2 linked regions of the Homo sapiens genome follow. The protein of the gene in region 2 interacts with the protein of the main gene of each other region in a pairwise test. Each region holds a gene or a part of one and is shown on either strand. Other genes may lie near its edges.

Region 1 (3,031 bases), on a different chromosome or scaffold from region 2:
GGCCGAGGGCCAGGCTTCTCACTGGGCCTCTGCAGGAGGCTGCCATTTGTCCTGCCCACCTTCTTAGAAGGGAGACGGAGCAGACCCATCTGCTACTGCCCTTTCTATAATAACTAAAGTTAGCTGCCCTGGACTATTCACCCCCTAGTCTCAATTTAAAAAGATCCCCATGGCCACAGGGCCCCTGCCTGGGGGCTTGTCACCTCCCCCACCTTCTTCCTGAGTCACTCCTGCAGCCTTGCTCCCTAACCTGCCCCACAGCCTTGCCTGGATTTCTATCTCCCTGGCTTGGTGCCAGTTCCTCCAAGTCGATGGCACCTCCCTCCCTCTCAACCACTTGAGCAAACTCCAAGACATCTTCTACCCCAACACCAGCAATTGTGCCAAGGGCCATTAGGCTCTCAGCATGACTATTTTTAGAGACCCTGTGTCTGTCACTGAAACCTTTTTTGTGGGAAACTATTCCTCCCATCTGCAACAGCTGCCCCTGCTGACTGCCCTTCTCTCCTCCCTCTCATCCCAGAGAAACAAGTCAGCTGGGAGCTTCTGCCCCCACTGCCTAGGGACCAACAGGGGCAGGAGGCAGTCACTGACCCCGAGACGTTTGCATCCTGCACAGCTAGAGATCCTTTATTAAAAGCACACTGTTGGTTTCTGCTCAGTTCTTTATTGATTGGTGTGCCGTTTTCTCTGGAAGCCTCTTAAGAACACAGTGGCGCAGGCTGGGTGGAGCCGTCCCCCCATGAAGTACAGGCAGACAAGTCCCCGCCCCAGCTGTGTGGCCTCAAGCCAGCCTTCCGCTCCTTGAAGCTGGTCTCCACACACTGCTGGTTCCGTCACCCCCTCCCAGGGAAGCAGGTCTGAGCAGCTTGTCCTGGCTGTGTCCATGTCAGAGCAACGGCCCAAGTCTGGGTCTGGGGGGGAAGGTGTCATGGAGCCCCCTACGATTCCCAGTCGTCCTCGTCCTCCTCTGCCTGTGGCTGCTGCGGTGGCGGCAAAGGAGGGATGGAGTCTGACACGCGGACAAAGGCTCCTCCGGGCCCCTCACCAGCCCCAGGTCCTTTCCCAGAGATGCCTGGAGGGAAAAGGCTGAGTGAGGGTGGTTGGTGGGAAACCCTGGTTCCCCCAGCCCCCGGAGACTTAAATACAGGAAGAAAAAGGCAGGACAGAATTACAATGTGCCGGCCCAGGGTGGGCAGCGGCCCTGCCTCCTACCCTTGCGCCTCATGACCAGCTTGTTGAAGAGATCCGACATCAAGTGCCCACCTTGGCTCGTGGCTCTCACTGCAACGGGAAAGCCACAGACTGGGGTGAAGAGTTCAGTCACATGCGACCGGTGGCTCCCTGTCCCCACCCCCATGACACTCCCCAGCCCTCCAAGGCCACTGTGTTTCCTAGTTAGCTCAGAGCCTCAGTCGATGCCTGACCCAGCACCGGGCACTGATGAGAAAGTGGCTGTTTGAGGAGCCACCTCCCAGCCACCTCGGGGACAGGGCCAGGGTGTGCAGCACCACTGTACGATGGGGAAACTGGCCCAGAGAGGTGAGGCAGCTTGCCTGGGGTCACAGAGCAAGGCAAAAGCAGCGCTGGGTACAAGCTCAAAACCATAGTGCCCAGGGCACTGCCGCTGCAGGCGCAGGCATCGCATCACACCAGTGTCTGCGTTCACAGCAGGCATCATCAGTAGCCTCCAGAGGCCTCAGGTCCAGTCTCTAAAAATATCTCAGGAGGCTGCAGTGGCTGACCATTGCCTTGGACCGCTCTTGGCAGTCGAAGAAGATTCTCCTGTCACAGTTTGAGCTGGGTGAGCTTAGAGAGGAAAGCTCCACTATGGCTCCCAAACCAGGAAGGAGCCATAGCCCAGGCAGGAGGGCTGAGGACCTCTGGTGGCGGCCCAGGGCTTCCAGCATGTGCCCTAGGGGAAGCAGGGGCCAGCTGGCAGGAGCAGGGGGTGGGCAGAAAGCACCCGGTGGACTCAGGGCTGGAGGGGAGGAGGCGATCTTGCCCAAGGCCCTCCAACCGCAGGCTCCAGGGCCCGCTCACCTTGCTCCTGCTCCTTCTGCTGCTGCTTCTCCAGCTTTCGCTCCTTCATGCTGCGCAGCTTGGCCTTGCCGATGCCCCCAGCTTGGCGGATGGACTCTAGCAGAGTGGCCCAGCCACCGGAGGGGTCGACCACTTCCCTGGGAGCTCCCTGGACTGGAGCCGGGAGGTGGGGAACAGGGCAAGGAGGAAAGGCTGCTCAGGCAGGGCTGGGGAAGCTTACTGTGTCCAAGAGCCTGCTGGGAGGGAAGTCACCTCCCCTCAAACGAGGAGCCCCGCGCTGGGGAGGCCGGACCTTTGGAGACTGTGTGGGGCCCGGGCACTGACTTCGGCAACCACCTGAGCGCGGGCATCCTGTGTGCAGATACTCCCTGCTTCCTCTCTAGCCCTCACCCTGCAGAGCTGGACCCCTGAGCTAGCCATGCTCTGACAGTCTCAGTTGCACACATGAGCCAGCAGAGGGGTTTTGTGCCACTTCTGGATGCTAGGGTTACACTGGGAGATACAGCAGTGAAGCTGAAATGAAAAATGTGTTGCTGTAGTTTGTTATTAGACCCCTTCTTTCCATTGGTTTAATTAGGAATGAGGAACCCAGAGCCTCACTTGTTCAGGCTCCCTCTGCCCTAGAAGTGAGAAGTCCAGAGCTCTACAGTTTGAAAGCCACTATTTTATGAACCAAGTAGAACAAGATATTTGAAATGGAAACTATTCAAAAAATTGAGAATTTCTGACCACTTAACAAACCCACAGAAAATCCACCCGAGTGCACTGAGCACGCCAGAAATCAGGTGGCCTCAAAGAGCTGCTCCCACCTGAAGGAGATGCGCTGCTGCTGCTGTCGTCCTGCCTGGCGCCTTGGCCTACAGGGGCCGCGGTTGAGGGTGGGAGTGGGGGTGCACTGGCCAGCACCTCAGGAGCTGGGGGTGGTGGTGGGGGCGGTGGGGGTGGTGTTAGTACCCCATCTTGTAGGTCTGAAACACAAAGTGTGGGG
Region 2 (3,909 bases):
GTCCAAGGCCTAAAAGTTGGTGGATAGTGGATCTGGGATCTGACGCCAGATAAGCTGCAGAGCAGAGAGCTGAGAATTAGCTGCAAAGCTCTTGAAGTCACTCAACTCAAGGTGGTTCCAAGGTTCTCAGACCAATTCTCTCCCCTAGACTGGACTGTTCAGAAACCAGAAACTCAGAAAGACAGAGCGCCCACTGCCAGTTTGGCTGGAATTCTGGAGATAGACCCCCCACCAATTTCTCAGGGAGTCTAGAATCAGTGCCACCTGCTCCTGTCATATGTGTGAAATCTCCTATGCAGACGACAACCTGAGGATTTGGTCTTGCCCTGTGTGGTGTGTTTGGGTGCGGAGGTGGGTTGGATGGGGTTTGGGGTCTGCTGAGCTCTTGGCAGTGACAGCAGTAACTCATCATGTGTCATTCGTTCTGCCATCAGGGGTCCTCCATCCTCCTATTCCTGGCCCATATGGTGTAGCCATGGTCTAGACCAGGGTTTCCCAGACTTTCCGCATTATAAGAATGACCTGGAGGGCTTGTTAAAAATGCAAACTCTCAACCCTTTCCTCTGAAGATTTTCATTCATAGGGCTGGGGTGGGAGCTGGTTTTAGGTATTTGCATTCTTAGACATCAGTCATCAGTCAGTTAACACGTTTGTGCTGTGCTTACCCTATGCTAGGAGCTGGACATTTAGGATAATTTAGAATGGGCAGGACTCAAGCCTTGCCCTCAAGAAGCTCAGGGACCGGAGGGGTATGGACAAGTAAGCAGGTAAGTATACTTTATGTCAGGTTCACGATGGGAAAAGTACAGGGTATGGTGGGAAGACAAGGAGGGGCATCTGACCCAGACCAGGGGGTAAAGCAGGGAGGGGATCCCCTCCAGAAGATCTGAGTTGGGGCCTAGACACAAGATACACTGTCCTCCTAAGATGAATGGGGTGCTTGAGCCGACTCTACCAGCCAGCTGGAGGGTTACCAGATTCTGTCTCCTCTTGCTTCTGGGTCCAGAAATTGCCTGCTGTCAGTCTAGGATGGTGGGGGGAGGGCTTGGTCTGAGGCTCTCCACAGTGCATGCCCCCTCTTCTTCCCAAACCTCATACTTGTTTGCTCCCTGTTCCAGGAGCTAGACGTGTTTACCTCCACTGTAATTTCTTCCCCATAAGTAGCATTTCTCAGCCCAAACTCCAGGTTTGCTGAGATGGATGCCTTTGGCTGAGGTGCTGGCAGAGCAGACTCTATGGGTCTGGGCCCCTCTCACTTCCGCTCCCACTCCAGGCCCTCTGAAGAGTTGGGAACAGGTGACATGCCACTGGAAGAAAAGGCCTAATGATGGCAGAGACGGGCGCAGCCACTGTGGGAGCCTGTGGACACTGTGGTGCTGCAGGGAGGGACCCAGCCCACTCAGAAGAGGTTGCCTGGTCCTCACCCCCCTGTGTCAGGGAGCTCATGGCTCCGGATCACCTGGTGTCTAAAGCTGCTTCCTCCTGCTGGATCAGGTGCTGCTTGGGTTCCCTGAAACCCTTGAGGACAGCACAAAAAGGGAGGGAGGAGAGCTCCAGCATTTTGTCAACTGAGGCAAGTTTAGGTGATTAAGCTAAGAAAGCAAAGCCACTCTGGCCCAGAGGATTATCTCTGAGGTGTGTTGGGAACCAAGAAGTAACTTAATGCCTACGAGGCAAACCAAACCCAAGATGATTCTCAACTAATTGCTCGCCTCTCCTTTTGCCAAGCCAAACTCCCTGTTATATAAAGGCCAGTCTCCTCTCTTGTCCCTATCCCTCTCAGCTCTTGCTAAGTGATCACTAGCTTGCCTCCAAGCTCTCTCACTATGAACAGACAAGTTTGCAAGAAATCCTTCAGTGGCAGGAGCCAGGGTTTCTCTGGCCGCTCTGCTGTGGTCTCCGGCAGCAGCAGGATGAGCTGTGTGGCCCGCTCTGGGGGAGCTGGTGGAGGGGCCTGTGGCTTCAGGAGCGGAGCAGGCAGCTTTGGCAGTCGCAGCCTCTACAACCTGGGCAGCAACAAGAGCATCTCCATCAGCGTGGCAGCTGGCAGCTCCCGGGCTGGAGGCTTTGGGGGAGGGCGGAGCAGCTGTGGCTTTGCAGGTGGCTATGGAGGTGGCTTTGGGGGCAGCTATGGTGGTGGCTTTGGTGGTGGCAGAGGAGTAGGTAGTGGTTTTGGAGGGGCTGGTGGCTTTGGTGGAGCTGGTGGCTTTGGTGGTCCTGGTGTATTTGGTGGGCCTGGCAGCTTTGGTGGTCCTGGTGGCTTTGGCCCTGGGGGCTTTCCTGGGGGAATTCAGGAAGTGATTGTAAACCAGAGTCTCCTGCAGCCCCTCAATGTGGAGATCGACCCCCAGATTGGGCAAGTAAAGGCCCAGGAGCGGGAACAGATCAAGACCCTCAACAACAAGTTTGCCTCCTTCATCGACAAGGTGAGGGCAAGGCCAAGAGGTGCTGTGGAGGGTTTGGGGTGCCCAGGGGTCGGTGTAGAAAGATGCCATGGGGACTTGTGAGACACAGGGCAGGGGCGCTTGGCTCTTGTCCTGGTGCTGTCTTGGTCCCTACAGGACAGTGATCATGCCCCTTTCACTTTTTGGGCCTTCTTTTTCCAGCTGTGAAATGGGGGGAAGAATTCCTGGTCCTGGTTTCCTGCTAAGAATGAGATGAGGGTAAATGAAGTGGGGGTCCAAACATGCTCTTAGCTTTTTGAAGAATGAGCCATTTTAGTCATGAAATTATTGCAGTTACTTTAATTTCTCCTGAAAAGCAATTGCTTGATAATCCAAAGTAGCTGGTAATCAAAACCTTGTGTTAGCACAGATCTTGAGGCTGCATCTAAATGAGGTGCATTGGCAGCTGCCTTACCTTCCAGATGATGCTGTGCTTCAGCCAATAATTAAACTGAGCTGTCCATGCTGGGGCAGAGGAGGGTGTTCTGGGTCTGTGTGGGACTGAGCCCAGGATCTGAAGTGAATTCTAGTTCAGCTGCAAGCTGAATAACTGAAAGGAGGTCTTCCTATGTGAAACTTCTAAAGAAATGTTAGACCTCATTGACTGTATTCACTGCCTTTATGGAGCTGAAAAAAGCTTACATCTAAAAAACAATGACAAACTTTATTTGTGCTTACCTCCTTCAGTGGTATTCTGAAGGATCCCTATAGACCCAGGACAGTCCTGGGTTTGATTCTTAGCTTTGTCACTCAGTAGACTTGTCACTTTGGGAAACTTAAACTCTTTGAGTCTCAGTTTCCTTATCTACAAAATGGGGATCACAGCAACTCCTTTATAGGTGGTTGTGAGGATTAAATGTGACGGAAATACATGAAAATAACAGGTAAGGCATAATCACTCAACAAATTCTAGCTCTCCCTTTGCTAAATCTTCATCCTTCCCAAATTAAAAAACAGGGGAAATTGTAGATTGAAGAACTGGGTTCCTTCTCCACAGTTCTACATTTGGGATGGGCAGCCCCACATGCCCAACTCAAGGGGCTGACTCCTTTTCTCCCCTCTTTCATGCAGGTGCGGTTCCTGGAACAGCAGAACAAGGTCCTGGAGACCAAGTGGGAACTGCTCCAGCAGCAGACCACAGGCTCAGGGCCCAGCAGCCTGGAGCCTTGTTTTGAATCCTACATCAGCTTCCTATGCAAGCAGCTAGATTCACTTCTAGGGGAGAGGGGGAACCTGGAGGGAGAGCTGAAAAGCATGCAGGACCTGGTGGAAGACTTCAAAAAGAAGTGAGGGCTCCTCCTGGGAAGTTTCCCCTTCTGGGGAATTAGCAGGGAGGTGTGGTCCTAATTTGGGATTTCAACTGTTCCCAACTGTGCCTTCAGTCAATACTCTGGGATGGATTTATTGAGTGAAACATGACAAAGCAGAAGGGGGTGAAAGGGTGGGGACTGAGACTCCCATGTGG

What was found.
Region 1: the proteins of KRT76 (region 2) and WASHC1 interact in a two-hybrid assay, tested with the Homo sapiens proteins (one large-scale study listed by BioGRID).

What each region holds. Positions count from the first base shown.
Region 1 is NC_000009.12:13,866-16,896, forward strand, and holds the end of WASHC1 (WASH complex subunit 1), read right to left. Parts: intron 3,012-3,031; coding exon 2,853-3,011; intron 2,197-2,852; coding exon 2,044-2,196; intron 1,285-2,043; coding exon 1,216-1,284; intron 1,076-1,215; coding exon 942-1,075; 3' UTR 648-941; downstream 1-647. UniProt on the Homo sapiens protein: Acts as a component of the WASH core complex that functions as a nucleation-promoting factor (NPF) at the surface of endosomes, where it recruits and activates the Arp2/3 complex to induce actin polymerization, playing a key role in the fission of tubules that serve as transport intermediates during endosome sorting.
Region 2 is NC_000012.12:52,775,209-52,779,117, reverse strand, and holds the start of KRT76 (keratin, type II cytoskeletal 2 oral), read left to right. Parts: upstream 1-1,772; 5' UTR 1,773-1,826; coding exon 1,827-2,426; intron 2,427-3,515; coding exon 3,516-3,730; intron 3,731-3,909. UniProt on the Homo sapiens protein: Probably contributes to terminal cornification.